Homo sapiens: one gene and its partners. The protein of the gene in region 1 purifies or fractionates together with the protein of each later gene. This does not show direct contact. Each region holds a gene or a part of one and is shown in the gene's direction. Other genes may lie near its edges.

Region 1 (3,649 bases):
GTGGCATTAGCAGTGGCCCATGCCCTGCAGATTTGGCGGGGGTGAAGGTCCTGGTTGTGTGCTGGGCTCCTAGTGAAGGGCCTGCCCTTTGGGCCTGGTGCATCCTGCTGGGTGAGGACAGCCAGCGTCCCTGCACCCCATTCATGCGATTGGAGCCTAGTGCTGCCCCTCAGCCTTGACGCTGGCCCAAGTGGAAGGATGTGTTCTGCAGGGCATCTGTTGGGATAGGTGTGGTTGGTGTCATAGTTGTCCTGCAGGACAGGGATCTCACTTGCACGACCCATGAACCCCAGGGGCTGCCTGGCCTTGAAGAGTTCCAGCCACGATTCCATAGCTGGGGCTGCTGGGCCAAGCCGCATGTCGAACGTCCTCGAGGAGCTTGAGGCAGGAGCTGGGCCGAGTATGCGTCTCCCAGGGCTGGGAACCAGGTGGGGGACTGGAATGGGTGGCATCAATGGTGGTAACACTGTCATCTGCCACAGGGCTGGACATGGAGGAAGGCAAGGAAGGAGGCACATGGCTGGGCATCAGCACACGTGGCAAGCTGGCAGCACTCACCAACTACCTGCAGCCGCAGCTGGACTGGCAGGCCCGAGGGCGAGGTAAGGCGAGTGGGGTGGGGCCAAGGTGAGACAGGGTGGGGTGGGGCAGGCCTAGGTGAGACAAGGTGGGGCCAAGGGACTACAGGACTGGCCAATGTATGGTGGAGTGGGGCGGGCCAAGGTAGGAAGTGCCAAGGTGCTTGTGCTTGGGAGTGGGATGGGGCAGGGCTGAGGTACCGTGGGGCAGGGCCAGGTTACAGAGTGGGCGGTGACAAAGCGTGGCAGGGCAGGGCCCAGGTAAGGGTGGGGACAAGAAGGGGGAAGCTGGGCCCCGTGGCAGGTGGGTGGCTTCCGTGGGCATATCACTGCCGCCACTGAGGTGTGCTGCAGGGGTATGCGGCAGAGACAGGAAGAGTGAGGAGGGGAGCATCCCATTTCCCACACCCTGGCCCTCTGGCGTCGCAGCCAGGAGCCCACTCCCACCTGACCCACGCAGCACTGTTTACTCCTCTCAGGGCGCACTCTCCCCTTGTCCTCATGCATGGCACTCCTGACTGCTGTGTCACTGTCCCCTGCCTGGAATGTTTGTAGAGTAGATGCCTTCCCCGAGACGACAGCTCTGTGGACACACATTGTCCCCACTGAAAGGTGTTGTTTACTTCATGCTGGATTTCCATAGGAAGACATAGTGGGGAAATTTTTTTTTTAATAAAATGAGCAGTTTTCAGTGCCGACCTGAGTGGCAGCCAGGCTAATGAGGTGTGGCTGACTCTTGCGGCAGTCATGACAGGCCAGGGCTCCAGTGGGACCCCTCATCTTCCTGCATCCTCCCCAGGGGGCCCCATATCAGTGTTCCTGGGAGAAGAGCACATGCCTGCAGCTGTGGACACAGCATCTGTCCCCTGCCTACAGGTGAACTTGTCACCCACTTTCTGACCACTGACGTGGACAGCTTGTCCTACCTGAAGAAGGTCTCTATGGAGGGCCATCTGTACAATGGCTTCAACCTCATAGCAGCCGACCTGAGGTGGGTCTGCCAGAGGGGGATGGCGGCTCTGCCCAGCACTGCCTCGGGGGCAGGCCTCAGGCTCATCAGGAAGTGGGGTTCCACTGGGGGCTGTGGCAGCCTCTCCAGGGACGTTGCTCCTCGTGACTTGGCAAACATTCTGAGGACTGAGCCTGTCACAGATGTACCAACTCGGGTATTTGGGGGTGAAGCCCAAGGCTTCCTGTGATGGCATGAGGGCTGCCGGATCCCTGGAGAAAGCTGAGGCTGTGAAGAACAGTCACATAGAGTGGCTCTGGCCGGGTGTCCTCCCTCCCACGGGCAGGCTGTGCAGAGCAGCCCTCCGCAGCCCTGGCTTGGAGTGACTGGGATGCTGTGCTCCCAGGGAAGCTCCTGTTGGAGATGAGGCCGCAGGAACTGCGGAGGTTTTGGTGTTTTGCCCTTCCGTGAAGTGAGCATTCCTCCCTCCTGCCCTCCTCCCCCTCCAAAGCCCCAGAACTTGGCCAATGCTGTTAGTCCGGGGCCTTCTGCCAGGACAGGCAAACGGGAAGTGGTCGGCACATTGTGGCGGGCCCTGAAGCTGCCTCCTTCCACAAGGGCAGGTCCATGGGCCTCTCTCCTGGCTCCCGAGCTCCAGGCCTGCTGTTCGTTGAGCATCCCTTGTGTGTGGCATGCCCAGCCCTGCCCCACATGGGTCTGCACACTTGCTATGGAGGCTGGGAGAGTTGCAGTGTCCCCTAGGTGGAAGGCCGAGGGCTGGTGCGGGGCACTTGCTGTCCGGAGCCGTTCTTCCTGCCCATGCCTTCGTGACTCCAGGTGGCAGAGCCCCTGTGCTCTCTGCATGCCCCCATGCTCAGGAACCACTTTTCCCGGTCAGTAGTTCCATGTGGGTCTGATTAGTCTCAGGAGAGTTCCTCTGCGGCCGTGGCACCAGCAGGACTTGGCACTCAGCAGCTGTGTGGAGGTGGGGTGCCAAGGGTGCCATGCCTTGAGCAGATACACGGGCTCCTGTGGTTGGGGGTTGGGGGTTTGGGCTCCTCAGAGCCTGTGCAACTCTCCCGGCTCCAAAGGCTGCAGAGTGAGGGTCAGCCTCCTGGACCTAGCCTGAGGATACAGGCAGTGGCCAGGAGAGCATACCACAGGTCAGGCAAAAGCTGGTGCCAGGGCCGAGGCTGGAGGGCGGGGGCATCGGAGGTCAGTGAGCAGCCCTGCTGGTAGGTGCAGATGAGGAAGCCAAGGCCTGGAAGGGAGAGAGGCTTGTCATGGCCACAGCTATCCCTGGGTGAGGCCTGCCCTCCGCCTGGCCTGTGGTATAGTGCTGGCAGCATGGGTGTCCAGTTCTGTAGGTCCTTACACAGAAAGCCCAGAGGAGATTTTTGCCTGCAAACAGTCTCTGAAATTATGAACCAAGTATCTTAGGAAAGTTGCCAAAGACCATGGTGAGGAAGAACGGGAGTGGAATGTGAACATAGACGGGGGGGCCCTTGAAGCCTACCAGGGGTGGGGAAGGTGGGTCCCACCTGGGGGCAGCACTTCGGGGAGGAAGGCACCATGCCTGGCTCTTTCTCTGCATCTGTTCCATCTTGAAGGCCCAGGGCTCCATGCCCAGCATCTGGCCTGGGAGGGCATCTCACAGGCCACAAAGAGATCCTCTTCACTTTGCAAAAAAGGCACTCCAAGTTCTAGAAGACTTACTGTGGTATTGAGGATTGGAATATTTTCAGCTGGGGAGCATTTTGAACTATTTTCTTTTTAAAAAATGATTTATTTATTTTGTAGAGATGGGGTCTTGCTATGTTGCCCAGTCTGGTTTCAAACTCCTGGCCTCAAGCAGTCCTCCCTCCTTAGTCTCCAGATTAGCTGGGACTATAGGCATGAGTCACTATGCCCAGCTCTACTGTCCCTTAACTATTTTAAAGTGTACACTTAACACTTGAGAGTAGGAAAATGTGGTCTTTGGCGCTTTCTTTGGAAGCCTCGATCACCCTGGGGCCACACTGGGGCCACCTGTCCAGAAACCCTCATAGATGAGCTGTGGTAAGGGGCCTGATGGAGAGGTTGGTGATGTGGGGATGGGGCTCAGCCCTGCAGTTGTCCCCAT
Region 2 (4,135 bases), on another chromosome or scaffold:
AGTAAGACGCCGTCTCAAAAAATATATATATGTATATATGTGTGTGTGTGTGTGTGTGTATATATATATATATATATATATATATATATATATATATGGTTAAAGTAATATAATTTAAGTTATGTATATTTTTCCACTTCCCAAAAAGGGTCTACTTAACTCACAGAGTTATTGTGAAAATCAAATGAAGACGTAAAAGCCTTTTTAAGCTGGGCGCAGTGGCTCACACCTGTAATCCCAGCACTTTGGGAGGCCGAGGTGAGCAGATCACCTGGGGTCAGGAGTTCAAGACCAGCCTGGCCAATATGATGAAACCCCGTCTCTACTTAAAAAACAAACAAAATTAGCCCGGCGTGGTGGCGCGCCTGTAGTCCTAGCTACTTGGGAGGCTAAGGAGGAAGGATCGCTTGAACCCAGGAGGAGGAGGTTGTAGTGAACCTAGACTGCGCCACTGCACTCCAGCCTGGGCGACAGGATGAGACACTGCCCCCTTCCCCAACCACGCCCCCCAGTAAAAGATCCCATCTGTACACAAAAAATATTTTAATTAGCTGGGTGTGGTGGCGCGCACCTCCACCAGTAGTCCCAGCTACACGGAAGGCTGAGGCGGGAGGATGGCTTGAGCCTAGAAGTGGGAAGGCAGCAGTGAGCCGTAATCGACTCTGGGCGACAGAGCAAGCTATCTATCGCTTAAAAAAAAAAAAAAAAAAAAAAAAAAAAAGGTAAGCAAGCATCTTTGACACAATTCTGCATAAAGTTGCTGTGTTATTGCGTGGGGAGTGGGAGGTGGAGGTGTGTGTGGTGGACCTGCTGAAGCCTGTCCACGGACCGCTAGGGGTTCGAAGTTAAATAGCCGCAGAGTGGTATCACTAATACAAAGAACATTTTAAAACAGTGAACTCTACGAAGTGGGCTGGAAGACAGCTGAAACCAAAACCAATCTTTTTTTTGTTTCAACACACTGTTGCTGGCTTAATGTGTTCTTTCCTTCTTCTTTTTCTTTTTTTAGCCAATCTTTGAAAGTTGACACATCTTTCGCTTTTATTTAATGCAACAGGTGACTTGCACCTACGGAGAGCTTGGAGAAAACACGGACAAGTGGAATTTTCCCGCGGATCAGGAGTCTAAAGAGGCAGTGTGAAATCGCTGTTGTGCGCTTGCGCGCAGTTTCCCGCATGCTCAGTAGCTGAGGTAGGGATGCCATCCTTCTCAAAAGACTTATTGACAGTGCCAAAGCTCGGTACTGGACACAACGAGGGACCTGGGTCTACGATAACGCGCTTTTGCTCCTCCTGAAGTGTCTTTGGTCCAACGTTGTTCCAGGTTTGTCACCGTTTCTCTCCGGCCGGTCAGGGCAAGAGCCAGGTAGATAGGATTTATGTTAAAAAAATAAAACGAAAAAGGTTTATGTGAATCAGATTGCTTCTCCAGATATTCTAACTTCCGACTTGGACTCTTGAGTGTCGATATTTTAATTGTTTATCTGTGCTTTTATTTTCGTGATCCGGAAGGTTTTTATAGCCATATACTGTAGAAACAAGACAAACCTAGACATTGAGTTTGTTGATGCACCCAAATTTAGAAACTGCTTGGTACCTAAAATTAAATTTCTTTAAACAGCAAATATTCTTCCAACTGCCATTTCTACATATTTATAGGTTTGCGTGATTTATTTGGATTTCTCTGTAAATATAATTGTTGGTTCAAAAGATACGTACTTTATACTTTTATTAAGGTTCTCAAAACTCTCCTAAGAGGGTTCACCGCTTTGCCAACAATGCTCAGGAACATGTTCCCTCACACCCTTGCAAACTGGACAAAGGACAAACTCTTCTTCTTTCTTCTTTTTTCTTCTTCTTCTTCCTCCTCCTTCCTCCTCCTTCTTTTTTTTTTTTTTTTTTTTTTTTCGAGACGGAGTCTCGCTCTGTCGCCCAGGCTTGAGTGCAGTGGTGCAATCTCGGCTCACTGCAAGCTCCACCTCCCAGGTTCACGCCATTCTCCTGCCTCAGCCTCCCGAGTAGCTGGGACTACAGGCGCCCACCACCAAGCCTGGCTAATTTTTTTTGTATTTTTAGTAGAGACGGGGTTTCACCGTGTTAGTCAGGATGGTTTCGATCTCCTGACCTCGTGATCTGCCCGTCTCGGCCTCCCAAAGTGCTGGGATTACAGGCGTGAGCCACCGCGCCCAGCCTTTCTTTCTTTCTTTTTTTTTTTTTTTTAAGACAGGTTCTAGCTCTGTCCCCCAGGCTGGAGTACAGTGGTGCCATTATGTCTCACTGCAACCTTGACCTCCCAGGGTCTGGTGATTCTCCCACCTCAGCCTCCCGAGCAGCTGGGACTACAGGCATGTGCCACCACACCATCTAATTTTTGCATTTTTTTGTAGAGACGAGGTTTTGCCATGTTGCCCAGGCTGGTCTCGAACTCCTGAGCTCAAGCAATACACCAGCCTTGGCCTCCCAAAAAGTTCTAGGATTACGGGTGTGAGCCACTGCATTCAGCGACAATTTTTTTTTTTTTTTTTTTTTTTGAGTCGGAGTCTCTGTCGCCCAGGCTGGACTGCAGTGGCGCGATCTCGGCTCACCACAACCTCTGCCTCCTATGTTCAAGCAATTTTCCTGCCTCAGCCTCCTGAGTAATTTTTGTATTACTATGCCTGGTTAATTTTTGTATTTTTAGTAGAGATGGGGTTTCACCATGTTGGCCAGGCTAGTCTTGAACTCCTAACTTCAGGTGATTCACCTGCCTTGGCCTCCCAAAGTGCTGGGATTACAGGTGTGAGCCACCGTGCCCTGCCAAATTTTCTTTTCTATGCCAATCTTAAAAATAAACAATCATGGCCCGGCGCGGTGGCTCACGCCTGTAATCCTAGCACTTTGGGAGGCTTAGGCAGGCCATGAGGTCGGAAGTTCGAGACCAGCCTGACCAACATGGAGAAACCCTGTCTCTACTAAAAATACAAAATTAGCCAGGTGTGGAGATGCTTGCCTGTAATCCCAGCTACTCGGGAGGCTGAGGCAGGAGAATCGCTTAAACCCGGGAGGCAGAGGTTGCGGTGAGCCAAGATCTCGCCATTGCACTCCAGCCTGGGCAACAAGAGCAAAAACTCTGTCTCAAAAAATAAATAAATTAATTAATTAATTAAAAATAAAATAATCATTTCTCATTGTTTTAGTTTGCATTTCTTTCATAATTAGTGAAGCTGAGTATTTATGTATTTAATGGCCAGTGCTTTTCTCTTTGTAGGTGTTGCCCGTTCTTGTTTATTTGCTCATTTTTCTATTGGATTATTCAGCTTTTATATACTGATCTTTTACAAATTAAGTCATTTGTCTGGTATGTGATACAATATTTTTTTCTCATTTTGTCAAGTACCTGTTTATTTAGTTTATGGTATTTTGGCCATGTAGAAGTTTTAATTTTATTTTTATTTATTGATTGATTGATTTTGAGACGGAATCTCGCTCTGTCACCCAGGCTGGAGTGCAATGGTGCAAATGATCTCAGCTCACTGCAACTTCTACCTCCCAGGTTCAAGCAATTCTCCTGCCTCAGCCTCCTGAGTAGCTGGGATTACAGGCGCGTGCCACCAAGCCCGGCTAATTTTTGTATTTTTAGTAGAGACAGGGTTTCACCAAGTTGGTCAGGCTGGTCTTGAACTCCTGACCTCGTCATCCGCCCGACTTGGCCTCCCGAAGTGCTGGGATTACAGGCCACCGCGCCCAGCAACTCTTAGTTTTATAGAGTCAAATTTATCAATAGAATATTTTATGGATTCTTGGTTTTATGCTTAAAGGGCATTTACCAAGCTTATGAAGTTTATAATTTTTATTTCCATGCTTTTATGGTTTCTTTTTTTACTTTTATAAACCATGCATTGAAATGTATTTATATCAAAATGTATTTATATCAAAATATCAAAAGAATGCAAAAAGGACTCAACTTTTTTTTTTTTTTTTTTTGAGACGGAGTCTTGCTCTGTCGCCCAGGCTGGAGTGCAGTGGCACCATCTCGGCTCACTGCAACCTCCGCCTCCCAAGTTCGAGCAATTCTCCTGCCTCAGCCTCCCAAGAAGTTGGGGTTACAGGCGCCCGCCAATATGCCCGGCTCATTTTTTTTTTTTTTTAAGTTTAGC
Region 3 (3,649 bases), on another chromosome or scaffold:
CATCTCAGTAAAAAAAGAAAGAAAGAAAAAGGCAAAAACAGGTTATTGCTTATTGAAGAAAATATTTGACTACATGGAGGGGAAACAGTTCATCATTTATCATTCTTATGACTACAATTTGACATATTAGTGGAGTCATTTTTCTTGATTGTTTCTAGTTGTTTTGTGGATTTTTATATAATTATATTAGTTATAAAAATTTTATCAGTTTTAAGGCTGATTAAAAATCACATGGCAAGTTGATAGTTGTGTTGGGCAGTAACTCACCTCTTACTTTGCTCACTTAGCCCAGTGAATTGAACTGTATAGAAGAATGAAAAAAGGTGCATTTCCCTTTCCCTAAAGACTCTGATGCCTAATGATAACTGTTAAAGTACTTTTTTGTCTTTGTACCACTAGCCAAGGATAAGCAGTTACCCTGAAGACAACTTTCCGGATGAAGAAAAAGCATCAACCATAAAACATTGTCCTGATTCAGAAAGCAGAGCTCCCCAAATTCTCAGAAGACAGAGTAGCCCAAGTTGTGGGCCTGTGGCAGAGACTTCTTCTATTGGTATGGCTAGCATTATTAGCAGCCATGGGGTACATATGGCTAGATATTGTTATCTGGGTGAATAAATCAAAGTGAAAACTGAAATGAGAGTCATTTGTTCCTATTTCAAAAAATATCTTTTTTATTTAGTCAATCCTATTATAGCTTAAAGCTTTGTAAAGGCTCTTTAATTCTGCATGGATGGGCTATAAATAGATTTCAGTTCACTTCAATCCTAATTTGAATCCTTACTAAATATTTATTATAGGATCTAGAAGGGTGAATGCATGTTTCTGCCCCCAGAACTTCAGGGTCTACAGCAGAAGGTATACCCACATACACATAACATTAGGAAAGACAGTTTATGTATGTGTCTTCTGAAATAATTACCTGGATGTAACAGAAGACCAGAGATTTCTGAGGGAGATAAAGATGGGGAATAAGGAAACTAAGCTCTTGCAGGATTTTTTTTTTCTGTAGAGATGGGGTTTCGCCGTGTTGCCCAGGCTAATCTCAGACCCCTGGGCTCAAGTGATCCGCCTGCCCCAGCCTCCCAAAGTGCTGGAATTACAGGCATGAGTGACCGTACCTGGTCCTTCTTGCAGGATGTTAAAGGGCTTGGTGAGCCTTCAGTAGGTAGATGAAATGCACTGAAGCTGGGAAATCTGAATTATGCAGTCTATTATAATAGAAATGTGAGCTTTTAAAGGGTATATACTGGAAGATACAACTGAAAAGGTGGATTGAAGTTCAATTATAAAAAGCCTTGCATATCAGAGTCAGTAGGTCAGATTTTTTTTCTTCATGATACGGAAAAACATGGATTAAGACCACTGCTAAAGATGCAATGCTACCTCTATAGAATCTAGAGAAAGACACCAAAGATAACTTACCTGAGAGTAGAGAATATTCCCCAATAAAGGATCACCCAAGTGAAAGACAAATAGTGGGAGAAAGGGGAAATAATTTTTCAAGGAAAGTGCTTATTTGTGTGGTCATTCAACTTTTAACATGATTCTCTTTAGGAAATGGTGATGGTATTTCAAAACTGATGAGTGAAAATACAGAAGGATCAGCACAAGCACCACAGTTACCACGAAAAAAGGACAAACGAGACTTCCCTGTAGGTATAACAGGCATTTAGCAATTAGTTGTAAATAATACTATATTTATCATGCAAGGGGCATAGTCTGTTTAATTCAGTAATTCAAGTAACAGAAGTTCTAAATGTCTCAAGTTTCTTTTTAAGACTTAGGAGGTCTTACACTAGTAAATTTTATTTTTCCCATAGAAACCAGCCATCAATGGCCTTCCACCCACCCCAAAAGTTCTGGTAAGGAATATTTTTATGTGAACTATTTGCCGTTTTTTCTCTCTTTAGAAGCAGCAATATATTGGCTATCAATATACTTGAGCCTTTGAAAGTTAAGATATCATAAAATACAAAGATATTGAATGCATTTGGATATCTCATCATGTATTCTAATTTGAGTGTGTGAATTGGAATTGACAGTGTTTCACTTTTTGTAAATACTGGCAGTTGAGTCATCAGATTAGCCTACAAAGGCCTATTTAATTTTAATGCGATGATATTAATAGTACTGTGTCCTCTTCTTGATGTGGATTAAATATCTTTCTACCTCTAAAGTGATTTTCACATTGGACTATATACAATTAAAAGGAACCAGGGAAGCTTATATTAATGCATTTTCCTGGCCAGTCAGTGGAACTTATCTGTGAATGGGAACCCCATGATCCCATGAATGGGATGGGAACCAATCGTATGAATGGGATGCTTTATACATTGTCCTTTTTTATTCAGTGAAAGTCTAATGTATAATATAAATATCAACCTTTTTGTCTCTTATGACTATTAAAGAGTTATACTGCAATTGTAATCACTATAATGTTACTGAATAAAATTATCCATTGTTTCACATTAATAATTGTCAGTCCTAAAAAATAGTAGTAACTTAAAATTCCTAGACTATGTTATTGATGTATGTAGATCTTTTGGTAAATTTGATATTTGTGCCATAAAATAGTGGATTACAAAAGGAAAGAATATGAGACTGTCTTGGTAGTAGGGGTTTAATGATGTGAAAATATGAATTTTGTTTTGGAATGAAACAACAAGCATACGCAAATAAGAGTTAATTTGGTATTTCAATGATGTTAGTTATTTTCCAAGAATATATAAAATTTTCTAATCAAATAAGTTAACATTTCTTTCTTTATAAATAAGATGGGAGCATGCTTTTCAAAAGTTTTTGATGGCTGTCCTTTGAAAATTAATTGTGCAACATCCTGGATACATCCTGATACAAAAGGTAAAATGTTTGAATTTTATATACATCTCCAATAAAATATTTATTATGGGAAAGATCTTTATGATCAGTGACTTGAAGTTGTTTATTTTAAAAATACGACTTTAGAGACCTAATGGTATAGGAACCTGCAACAACCTAAATAGGTCAATAGGGTTTTGGTTTAAAGGCGTTAAAATTTAGGAGTGTATAGGAGCTATTCTTGATTAAAGGACTAAAGAGAAATCACAACTGATTGCATCCTTAATTTAGAATTTTCTTTTACCGTAAAAGGACGTTATTGGGACAATTTATAATCTCAATTAGTAAGAATTATAGATAACCTTGTTTATTGTTTAAGTATTAATGTCTTGTGGTTATATGACTTTTTTTCCTTAATGTACACAAATATTTCAAAGTAAAGAGGCATCATGCTCATAAGTTATCTTAAACAGCTCAGAAAACAAACATTTACATAAGGAAGAGAGAAGGATCAAGCAGAAGTAGTAAATGTTCAACATTTGTGGAATTTGTGTTACAGGTATTTAGGAATTATTTGTACTATTACAACTTTTCTGTACATCTGAAATGATGTTAAAATAACTTTTTTAAAATGTAGACTATGTTTCTGAAGTGAGGAAACATTTTCAGAGGCAAAAATTTGGAATCAAATAAATCTGGGTTTGGATTCCCACTCTGTCATTACCATGTGACTTTGAAAACAAACATAACACCTCTGCTTTTCAGTGTGATTGTTTGAAACATGAATCACTCCCGATATTTACTTTATTTCAAGGAAGGAACAAGCCTA

What was found.
Region 2: the proteins of TANGO2 (region 1) and BPNT1 fractionate together in Homo sapiens (co-fractionation; one large-scale study listed by BioGRID). This does not show direct contact.
Region 3: the proteins of TANGO2 (region 1) and MAP4K5 fractionate together in Homo sapiens (co-fractionation; one large-scale study listed by BioGRID). This does not show direct contact.

The regions. Positions count from the first base shown.
Region 1 is NC_000022.11:20,051,983-20,055,631, forward strand, and holds part of TANGO2 (transport and Golgi organization protein 2 homolog), read left to right. Parts: intron 1-482; coding exon 483-602; intron 603-1,377; coding exon of another isoform or gene 1,378-1,454; coding exon 1,455-1,569; intron 1,570-3,649. UniProt on the Homo sapiens protein: May be involved in lipid homeostasis.
Region 2 is NC_000001.11:220,086,874-220,091,008, reverse strand, and holds the start of BPNT1 (3'(2'),5'-bisphosphate nucleotidase 1), read left to right. Parts: upstream 1-1,220; 5' UTR 1,221-1,323; exon of another isoform or gene 1,324-1,365; intron 1,366-4,135. UniProt on the Homo sapiens protein: Phosphatase that converts 3'(2')-phosphoadenosine 5'-phosphate (PAP) to AMP and inositol 1,4-bisphosphate (Ins(1,4)P2) to inositol 4-phosphate. Is also able to hydrolyze adenosine 3'-phosphate 5'-phosphosulfate (PAPS) to adenosine 5'-phosphosulfate (APS).
Region 3 is NC_000014.9:50,441,945-50,445,593, reverse strand, and holds part of MAP4K5 (mitogen-activated protein kinase kinase kinase kinase 5), read left to right. Parts: intron 1-399; coding exon 400-553; intron 554-1,557; coding exon 1,558-1,655; intron 1,656-1,823; coding exon 1,824-1,865; intron 1,866-2,777; coding exon 2,778-2,862; intron 2,863-3,649. UniProt on the Homo sapiens protein: May play a role in the response to environmental stress. Appears to act upstream of the JUN N-terminal pathway.